Linked DNA regions of Homo sapiens. The protein of the gene in region 3 interacts with the protein of the main gene of each other region in a pairwise test. Each region holds a gene or a part of one and is shown on either strand. Other genes may lie near its edges. The genes, in order: FMR1, KIF1B and CLIP3.

Region 1 (3,654 bases), on a different chromosome or scaffold from region 3:
AGTCATCTGCTTATTTACAGCCAGGACCTAGTCCGAGGATCTCTTCTCAATTGGCTGTCACCAGTGCTAAACCAATTGTTAAATAATTTTAAAATTATCTCCTGAGCACATCCAGGCACCTTTGCTAAGTGCTTTGTGTATGTTTTATCTCATTTAATCTTACAGCAACCCACTGAGGTAGTTTTATTATTCCACTTTATAGGTGAGTGCACTGTAGCTTCAGTCCTTTGCCCACAGTCACATAGCTAGCATATGTCCAAATGATAGTCAAACCTTAGTGTCTGATTCTCTGAATCTATGTTGTCGTCTACTTTTTCTGTAACTTTTAATTATTAAGTAGTTAGGGTTCCTTCCTGACTATGGATTCATTTGGGACCATCACCCAAGATTAGTGAGAGATACTTTTTAAGACAAAGTTTATGATGGAATATTTCTTGGAATTCATAGCAGCTCAAAGTAAGTGTTAACTATTGGTGGGTTCTTAAGGACCAGCATGTCCAAGGGATAGATAGATTGGTAAATTACTGTATGTACCTGTCTTTTACAAAGCTATAAGATATTTAAGTACCCGTTTTGTAATTTTCCACTTAAACTGATATGTTTGATGAACTTGGCAGTCTAACTGCATTGGTTAAAAGGATGCACATTTATATTTCTAAATGAAATGGAATACTGAATTTAAAAGGTGATGTTTTCTCTATTAAGTATGAAAATAGATACAAATCTGGCCAGGCGCGGTGCTCACGCCTGTAGTCCCAGCGCTTTGGGAGGCCAAGGTGGTCAGATCACCTGAGGTCAGGAGTTCGAGACCAGCCTGGCTAACATGGTGAAACCCCATTTCTACTAAAAATACAAAAAATTAGCCAGACGTGTTGGCGGGCACCTGTAATCTCAGCTACTCGGGAGGCTGAGGCAGGAGAATCGCTTGAACCCAGGTGGCAGAGGTTGCAGTGAGCCAAGATCTTGCCATTGCACTCCAGCCTGAGCAACAAGAGCAAAACACCATCTCAAAAAAAAAAAAAAAGGGCCAGGCACGGTGGCGCACGCCTGTAATCCCAGCACTTTGGGAGGCCAAGGCGGGTGGATCACAAGGTCAGGAGATCGAGACCATCCTGGCTAACATGGTGAAACCCCATCTCTACTAAAAATACAAAAAATTAGCCGGGCATGGTGGCGGGCACCTATAGTCCCAGCTACTCAGGAGGCTGAGGCAGGAGGATGGCGTGAACCTGGGAGGCGGAGCTTGCAGTGAGCCAAGATCGCGCCACTGCACTCCAGCCTGGGCGACAGAGCGAGACTGTCTGGGAAAAAAAAAAAAAAAGATACAAATCAAAGTACTGAATCCTTGGTAACGAGACATTTAAAACACATGCACATACCCACTACTTAAACATACTTTGAAATTACAACCATTTGGGGATGTTTTTAGCATTTGTGCTTGAAGTAGATCAATATTTGTAGTTGTTTTAGTTCCATTTGTCACTGTTAACTTTCATTTGTACCTCTGGAATTAGCAGTGCTGTATTCAGCATTGGCACTTAAAATATTTTATAGCTCTTAGAACACTATTTTTTAAATTACATTGATCTTTATACTCTCCTAGGATTCCAGTCCTTCCACAAATTATTATATGCAGTTTTCTTTATACTGTTCCATTCTTCAGACAGAGTTCAGGTTGTAGGATCATCTGAATTTTCTTAGTGAAATACAAGCCAGTAGAAACCAAAGCTCGTGTTTTTCTACTGTATGACTATGGGAGCTCTCAGTATAGAGAAACTTGATCATACCTGTGATAGATATAAAGATGTAAATTAAAGTCTAGTTAGTGAGTTATTTGAGGGTAAAGCCAGAATAGGAAAACATTTTGTTTCTCTTTTCCTGGGCTTCACAATCTTTGGAGAATAACTAATTTTATTTTAACTCTAGTGTTAGAGGCATGTATGTCTTCTGGTAATCAGTAATAGTAATTCATTTTACCTGTTTGTTTCTCACTGTTTTATTCTACTTAGAAGAAGACATGATAGGATTGTGAGTTTTTCTCTAACTTTGGATGCAGTGAGATGACCAGTGTGTTCCAGTTAAAGAAGAAGAGTGTTTTAAAATCATAAACCAAATAAAGAATCCTACCTTACATTAATTTCTTGCACTTCTTCTGTTCTCATCTCCATTTCTCTTTTTAACATGTGGAATTTACACTTCAGGTTTAAATTTCTTGTCAGGCCAATTACAGATTACAGTAGGATATGGTCTGTGTATATAACAACTATAACTTGTTTTAGATCAGAGTTGACTGCAATAATGAAAGGAGTGTCCACACTAAAACATTACAGAATACCTCCAGTGAAGGTAGTCGGCTGCGCACGGGTAAAGATCGTAACCAGAAGAAAGAGAAGCCAGACAGCGTGGATGGTCAGCAACCACTCGTGAATGGAGTACCCTAAACTGCATAATTCTGAAGTTATATTTCCTATACCATTTCCGTAATTCTTATTCCATATTAGAAAACTTTGTTAGGCCAAAGACAAATAGTAGGCAAGATGGCACAGGGCATGAAATGAACACAAATTATGCTAAGAATTTTTTATTTTTTGGTATTGGCCATAAGCAACAATTTTCAGATTTGCACAAAAAGATACCTTAAAATTTGAAACATTGCTTTTAAAACTACTTAGCACTTCAGGGCAGATTTTAGTTTTATTTTCTAAAGTACTGAGCAGTGATATTCTTTGTTAATTTGGACCATTTTCCTGCATTGGGTGATCATTCACCAGTACATTCTCAGTTTTTCTTAATATATAGCATTTATGGTAATCATATTAGACTTCTGTTTTCAATCTCGTATAGAAGTCTTCATGAAATGCTATGTCATTTCATGTCCTGTGTCAGTTTATGTTTTGGTCCACTTTTCCAGTATTTTAGTGGACCCTGAAATGTGTGTGATGTGACATTTGTCATTTTCATTAGCAAAAAAAGTTGTATGATCTGTGCCTTTTTTATATCTTGGCAGGTAGGAATATTATATTTGGATGCAGAGTTCAGGGAAGATAAGTTGGAAACACTAAATGTTAAAGATGTAGCAAACCCTGTCAAACATTAGTACTTTATAGAAGAATGCATGCTTTCCATATTTTTTTCCTTACATAAACATCAGGTTAGGCAGTATAAAGAATAGGACTTGTTTTTGTTTTTGTTTTGTTGCACTGAAGTTTGATAAATAGTGTTATTGAGAGAGATGTGTAATTTTTCTGTATAGACAGGAGAAGAAAGAACTATCTTCATCTGAGAGAGGCTAAAATGTTTTCAGCTAGGAACAAATCTTCCTGGTCGAAAGTTAGTAGGATATGCCTGCTCTTTGGCCTGATGACCAATTTTAACTTAGAGCTTTTTTTTTTTAATTTTGTCTGCCCCAAGTTTTGTGAAATTTTTCATATTTTAATTTCAAGCTTATTTTGGAGAGATAGGAAGGTCATTTCCATGTATGCATAATAATCCTGCAAAGTACAGGTACTTTGTCTAAGAAACATTGGAAGCAGGTTAAATGTTTTGTAAACTTTGAAATATATGGTCTAATGTTTAAGCAGAATTGGAAAAGACTAAGATCGGTTAACAAATAACAACTTTTTTTTCTTTTTTTCTTTTGTTTTTTGAAGTGTT
Region 2 (3,654 bases), on a different chromosome or scaffold from region 3:
AGCCTCAGGAGTAGCTGGGTACTATAGGCATGCATCACTGCCCTGTTTATTTTTTATTTTATTTTGTAAAGGTATTTGAAGAACATTTCTTCCTTTTACTTAAAGAAGCTGTTGAAAACATTTAGTACATATCTATCTATCTATCTATCTATCTATCTATCTATCTATCTATCATCTATCTATCTATCTATCTATCTATTGAAACAGGGTCTCACTCTGTTGCCCAGGCTGGAGTACAGTGGAACAATCACAGTTCACTGCAGCCTCAATCTCCCAGGCTCAAGCAATCCTCCTCCCTCAGCCTCTGGAGTTATTGGGACTACAGGCACATGCCACCACACCTACCTAATTTTTTTTTTTTTTTTTGAGACGGAGTTTCGCTTTTGTTGCCCAGGCTGGAGTGCAATGGCTCGCGATCTCGGCTCACCGTAACCTCCACCTCCCGGGTTCAAGTGATTCTCCTACTTCAGCCTCCCGAGTAGCTGGGATTACAGGCATGTGCCACCACACCCAACTAATTTTGTATTTTTAGTAGAGACGGAGTTTCTCCATGTTGGTCAGGCTGGTCTCGAACTCTTGACCTCAGGTGATCCGCCTGCCTCAGCCTCCCAAAGTGCTGGGATTACAAGCATGAACCACCGCGCCCATCCACTAAATTTATCTTTAATAGAGATGAGATCCTGCTTCACTGCCCAGGCTGATACCGAACTATTGGGCGCAAGCAATCCTCTCACCTAGGCCTCCCAAAGTGCTGGGATTACAGGTGTGAGCCACTGTCCCCAGCCCTAGTAAGTCTTTATTTTTTATTTTTTTGAGGTGAGTTTCACTCTTGTTGCCCAGGCTGGAGTGCAATGGCACGATCTCAGCTTACAACAACCTCTGCCTCCTGAGTTCAAGTGATTCTCCTGCCTCAGCCTCCCGAGTAGCTGGGATTACAGGCATGCACCACCACACTCAGCTGATTTTTTTGTATTTTTAGTAGAGATGGGGTTCTCCATGTTGGTCAGGCTAGTCTCAAACTCCCGACCTCAGGTGATCCGCCTGCCTCGGCCTCCCGAAGTGCTGGGATTACAGGCGTGAGCCATAAGGCCTGGCCTATTTTTTACTTTTAAGATGGAGTTTTGCTCTTGTTGCCCAAGCTGGAGTGCAATGGCATGATCTCGGCTCACTGCAACCTCCGCCTCCCAGGTTCAAGTGATTCTCTTGCCTCAGTCTCCCAAGTAGCTGGGATTACAGGCATGCACCACCATGCCCGGCTAAATTTGTATTTTTAGTAGAGATGGGGTTTCTCCATGTTGGTTAGGCTGGTCTCAAACTCCCAACCTCAGTGATGCACCAGCCTCGGCCTCCCAAAGTGCTGGGATTACAGGCATGAGCCACCGCGCCCGGCCGTACGTATCTTTATATCAGGATGTTTATAACAATTTTCTCTTAGAACATCTTTAGAATTTAATACTAGGAAAAAAGGTTTCTCTCGACAAACTATTAGGCTTTCTTTTACCAGAGTGAAAATTGTACAATTTATCTTTCCCTTTTTGCATTAAATTCCATGTTTCCAAATTAAATTACAATAACCACATTAGCCGAGGCAACCTATACATTTAGTTTTTCTTGTTACATAAATTTTTACTTATTTATATTTTAATAGCTTCACTGTATATATTTGTGGTAAGCTGCTCAAATCCTTTCTAGAAGTAGTAACTGGTATAAATTATAAATAAATAAAAACTTCCTGTAATAGCCTATTCTGCTATTTAACACTGTAAATATGTTGTGTAGTCAAAGTTCTAGTTCCTAAAAACAAATAAAACCAAACGACACAGCAAGCTTTTAAAAGTTACATAAAGATCGGCTGGGCATCGTGGCTCACGCGTATAATCCCAACACTTTGGGAGGCCAAGGCGGGTGGATCACTTGAGGTCAGGAGTTCAAGACCAGCCTGGCCAACATGATGAAACGCTGTCTCTACTAAAAATACAAAAATTAGCTGGGTGTGATGGCACATGACTGTAATCCCAGCTACTCGGGAGGCTGAGGCAGGAGAATCACTTGAACCCGGGAGATGAAGGTTGCAGTGAGCCAAGGTCACACCACTGCACTCTAGCCTGGATGACAGAGCGAGACTCTGTCTCAAAAAAAAAAAAAGTTGCACAAAGATTTATGTTGAATGAATTTAATAGCCATGTGAGTAGCCAGAAAAACAGCAGTTTCAGAAGACTGAAACCAGCCCACAAACAGAAGTAGCCAAAAGTTCAAGGAAGAAAAAAACAAAATGAGTAACATACTTAGTACTGCAAAAGTGTGAAGTGTGCCTCCTGGTTTCAGCAATAAAGGCTGGAAACCACAGCAAGGGCAGTATCCATGAAGTGGGGGGCAGGAGGGGACACTGAAGCCAGCCTGTAGTGGGTTGGCACGGAAGTGGGAAATGCCAGTATCCATGACACTGTCAGAGCCTGGCTATGATGAGCAGGAGAGAGCAAATAGGAATGAAGGATTTTATTGGAAGGAACAGAAACGAAGGAGGGATTTTCCTCCCCCCAGCCCTTTATTTGTAATAGGAAAGACTTGCACATTTCTATACTTTATTCAATAGCTATTTACTGGGTGCCTACAATGCAACAGGCAGTTCCTGGGAAAAATAATCCGTGAACAAAAAAGATAAACAAACCTCCTTGTCATGGAGGAATTTACATTCTAGTAGGGAGAGGGAGGACATTAAAATTAATAAATCAGGTATAGAGAATCGAGAATGTAATCAGCATCACGGGGGAGTACAGCAAAGTCAGGGGGTTCAAGATTGTGGTGGTGGGAAGGATTGCTGTGCAGGTGCATAAATGAGGTCAGGGTGGGCCTGCTGATGTGCTGAGATTTAAGCAAAGACTTGAAAGAGGTAAAGGAGTTAGCCAAGCAGATTTCAGGGGAAAAGTATTCCAGGCAGAAGAAAGAGTAAGAGCAGCTGGGTGCGGTGGCTCACGCCTGTAACCTCAGCACTCTGGGAGGCTGAGGCAGGTGGATCACCTGAGGCCAGAAGTTCAAGACCAGCCTGGCCAACATGGTGAAACACCGTCTCTACTAAAAATACAAAATTAGCTGGGCTTGGTGGTGGGTGCCTATAATCCCAGCTGCTCAGGTGGCCGAGGCAGGAGAATTGCTTGAACCCAGGAGATTGTGCCTCTGCACCCCAGCCTGGGAGACACAGCAAGGCTGTCTCAAAAAAAAAAAAAAAAGAAAAAGAAAGAGTAAGAGCAAGTGCCCTATGGTAGGACTATGCCTGGTGTGTTCAAGAACAGTAGAAAAGGCTGGGCACAATGGGTCACGCCCGTAATCCCAACATTTTGGAAGGCAGAGGCGGGCGGATCACCTGAGGTCAGGAGTTTGAGACCAGCCTGGCCAACACGGTGAAACCCCATCTCTACTAAAAATACAAAAATTAGCTGGGCGTGGTGGCACACGTTTGTAATCCCAGCTACTTGGGAGGCTGAGGCAGGAGAATCACTTGAATCCGGGAGGCAGAGGTTGTAGTGAGCCAAGATCAGGCCACTGCACTCCAGTCTTGGTGACAGAACAAGACTCTGTCTCAAAAAAAAAAAAAAAAAAAAAAAAAAAAAAAAAAGAAAATGGGCAAGTACTGCAGGGAAAAGAAGAGTAACCAAT
Region 3 (3,654 bases):
GTTCTTGCCCTCAGGTTCGTCCAGCTCCACGCCCACCCACTGGCCGCTGGCAAACTCCGTGGTCCCACAGAACCGCAGTGTGCCCGTCTGGGGAGAGAAGGGAGGCGATGGCTAAGGAAGGAATGCTGGGAGGCCAACGTGGAGTGCCCACACACGGGCAGCAAGGTGGGTTGCATGAGGCCGCCCTGGGCCCAAACCCCAGGTCACACATCACCATTTGCTGGCTACATGACTTAACCTCTGTGTGCCTCAACTTCCTTTGCTGTGAAATGGGAACAGAAATTATACTCACCTTATAGGATTGTTAAAGAGTTGCCCTGTCTCATATAGTGAATAGTGACTAGCCACATAGGACAATGTAAATTTATTTATTTATTTATTTTATTTATTTTTTTTTTTTTCGAGACAGCGTCTCACTCTGTTGCCAGGCTCGAGTGCAGTGGCACGATCTCGGCTCACTGCAAATTCCACTTCCTGGGTTCAAGCAATTCTCCCATCTCAGCCTCCCAAGTAGCTGGGACTACAGGTGCATGCCACCACGCCTGGCTAATTTTTGTATTTTTAGTAGAGACGGGGCTTCGCCATGTTGGCCAGGCTGGTCTCGAATTCCTGACCTCAGGTGATCCACCCGCCTCGGCCTCCCAAAGTGCTGGGATCACAGGCATGAGCCACCATGCCTGGCCAACAATTTAAATTTAAACTAAGGCCGGGTGTGGTGGCTCATGCCTATAATCCCAACACTTTGGGATGCCAAGGCTGGAGGATCACTTGAGGCCAGGAGTTTCAGACCAGCCTGGGTGAAAATGGCGAGACCCTCTAATCTTAATCTGTTCCAAAAAACAAAGACAGCAAGACCCTATTCTCTATAAAAGAAAGAAAAAAGGTAACCAGGTGCAGTAGCTCAAGCCTGTTGTCCCAGTTACTTGGGAGGCTGAGGTGGGAGGATCGCTTGAGCCCAGGAGTTCAAGGGTGCAGTGAGCTATGATGGTGCCACTGCACTCCAGCCTGGGCAACAAGCAAGACCCTGTCTCAAAAATAAATAAATACATACCTTAGAAAGAAGACTCAGATGATTTTTAAATTTAAAAATAAATAAATTTAGTCCGGGCGCGGTGGCTCACACCTATAATCCTAGCACTCTGGGAGGCCGAGGTGGGAGGATCACCTGAGGTCAGGAGTTCAAGACCAGCCTGGCCAACATGGTGAAACCCCCATCTCTACTAAAAATACAAAAATTAACCAGGCATGATGGTGCACGCCTGTAATCCCAGCTACTCGGGAGGCTGAGGCAGGAGAATTGCTTGAACCCAGGAGGGTTGCAGTGAGCCCAGATAGCACCACTGCACTCCAGCCTGAGCAACAGAGCAAGACTCTGTCTCAAGAAAAAATATAAATAAATAAAAATACAAATCAATACATTTAAACTAAATTAAAAATGCATTTCCCCAGTCACACTAGCCATATTTCAAGTGCTCAATTGTCACATGTAGCTTGTAGCTACTTTACTGGACAGCACAGACAGAATATTTCCACCATTACAGAAAGCTCTGTTGGACAGGGCTGTTATAGAGAAATTAAAGCCCTCAGAACAGGGCTTGGTATTAAGTAAAGGATCAGCAAGTATTCGTTATTGAAATTTTTTTTCTATTTTAGAGACAGGGTCTCACTCTGTGGCCCAGGCTGGAGTGCAGTGGTGCAATCATAGCTCAGTGTAACCTTGAACTCCTGGGTTCAAGCAATCTTCCCTCCTCAGTCTCCCGAGTAGCTGGGACTACAGGTGAACGCCACCAAAGCCTGGCTAATTAAAACAACAACAACAACAACAAACTTTTGTTAAAAATAGAAATGGAGTATCCCTATGTTGCCCAGGTTAGTTTCAAACTCCTGGCCTCAAGCGATCCTCCCCATCTTGGCCTCCCAAAGTGCTGGGATTACAGGTGTGAAGCCACTGTGCTCAGCCTGTTAGCTATTATCATGCTGTAACTTTGGTCAGGGGACTTATTGAGCCTCAGTTTCATCTGTAAAATAGAGATAGTAAGCCACCTCATGGAGTGATCATCTGGCGGAAACTTTTTTTTTTTTTAGACAGGGTCTCACTTTGTTGCCCATGCCAGGGGTGCAGTGGCACGACCCTGGCACAGTGCAGCCTCAAACTCCTGGGCACAAGTGATCCTCTCACTTCAGCCTCCCAAGTAGCTAGGACTACAGGTGTGCGCCACCATGCCTGATTAATTTTTTCATTATTAGTAGAGATGAGGTCTCACCATGTTGATTGCCCAGGCTGGTCTTGAACTCCTGGGCTCAAGCGATCCTCTCACTTCAGCCTCCCAAGTAGCTAGGACTATAGGTGTGTGCCACCATGCCTGGTTAATTTTTTCATTTTTAGTAGAGATGAGGTCTCACTATGTTGCCCAGGCTGGTCTCGAATTCCTGGGCTCAAGCGATCCTTCTGCCTCAGCCTCCCAAAGTGCTGGGATTACAGGCATGAGCCACCACATTTGGCGGAAACATTTTTAACACATGTAAACTTGCTTAGCTGCAGTGAGACTTTAGTGAGTGTGGTTATTATCATTATGGGAGGCTCATTCACCTCTCCATGCCTCAGTTCCTGGTCCATATAATAGGCTAATTAATTAGTGCTGATCTTTTTTTATTTTTATTTATTTATTTTTTTTTGGAGACGGAGTCTCACACTTTGGCCCAGGCTGGAGTGCAGTGGCATGATCTTGGCTCACTGCAAGCTCCGCCTCCTGGGTTCATGCCATTCTCCTGCCTCAGCCTCCTGAGTAGCTGGGACTACAGGCACCTGCCACCATGCCTGGCTAATTTTTTGTATTTTTTTTGTAGAGACGAGGTTTCACCGGGTTAGCCAGGATGGTCTCGATCTCCTGACCTCGTGATCCGCCCACCTCTGCCTCCCAAAGTGCTGGGATTACAGGCGTGAGGCACCGCGCCCCGACAATTAGTGCTGATCTTAAGAGTGTTGGTGGAGGGACTAGAACAGTGCCTGGCACACACAAAGAGCATTTAGTATGCGCTGGACTCTGTTCTAATGGCCTTACGCATTTTAATTAATTTAAACCTCAACCAGCCCCCTAAGGTGGTTACTATTATTATCTCCATTTACGGATGAAGACATTGACACCCAAAGAGGCAGAATCACTGGCTCCAGGTCCACAGGTGGGAAGTTGCAAAGCTGAGATTTACCTGGGCAAGTCCCTGAGCCTGAGTTCATGACGCTGTGCTATGCTGCTTCTCTAAGGGGCAGTGATTAGTATTCCGTGTCTTCAGATAAAGGTTTTCACCTGTTGGAGCCTCTTATAGTCTGGCTTGTAAAATGGGAAGAGTCAACCCAACCTTCCTTCTGAATTGTGCAATGGATATGATTAGATCGTGCACAGCAGAATGCTTTCTGGATGGGGCCGGGCGCAGTGGCTTATGCCTGTAATCCCAGCACTTTGGGAGCCAAGGCGGGCGAATCGCTTGAGGGCAGGAGTTTGAGACCAGCCTGGCCAATATGGTGAAACCCGTTGCTACTAAAAATAAAAATAAAAGGCCAGGCGCGGTGGCTCACGCCTGTAATCCCAGCACTTTGGGAGGCTGAGGCGGGCGGATCACGAGGTCAGGAGATCAAGACCATCCTGGCTAACACAG

The links.
Region 1: the proteins of CLIP3 (region 3) and FMR1 interact in a two-hybrid assay, tested with the Homo sapiens proteins (one large-scale study listed by IntAct).
Region 2: the proteins of CLIP3 (region 3) and KIF1B interact in binary tests that used the Homo sapiens proteins (3 or more experiments, as listed by UniProt).

What each region holds. Positions count from the first base shown.
Region 1 is NC_000023.11:147,946,404-147,950,057, forward strand, and holds part of FMR1 (fragile X messenger ribonucleoprotein 1), read left to right. Parts: intron 1-2,279; coding exon 2,280-2,441; 3' UTR 2,442-3,654.
Region 2 is NC_000001.11:10,216,917-10,220,570, reverse strand, and holds part of KIF1B (kinesin-like protein KIF1B), read right to left. Parts: intron 1-3,654. UniProt on the Homo sapiens protein: Has a plus-end-directed microtubule motor activity and functions as a motor for transport of vesicles and organelles along microtubules.
Region 3 is NC_000019.10:36,019,220-36,022,873, forward strand, and holds part of CLIP3 (CAP-Gly domain-containing linker protein 3), read right to left. Parts: intron 166-3,654; exon of another isoform or gene 88-165; coding exon 1-87. UniProt on the Homo sapiens protein: Functions as a cytoplasmic linker protein. Involved in TGN-endosome dynamics. May modulate the cellular compartmentalization of AKT kinase family and promote its cell membrane localization, thereby playing a role in glucose transport in adipocytes.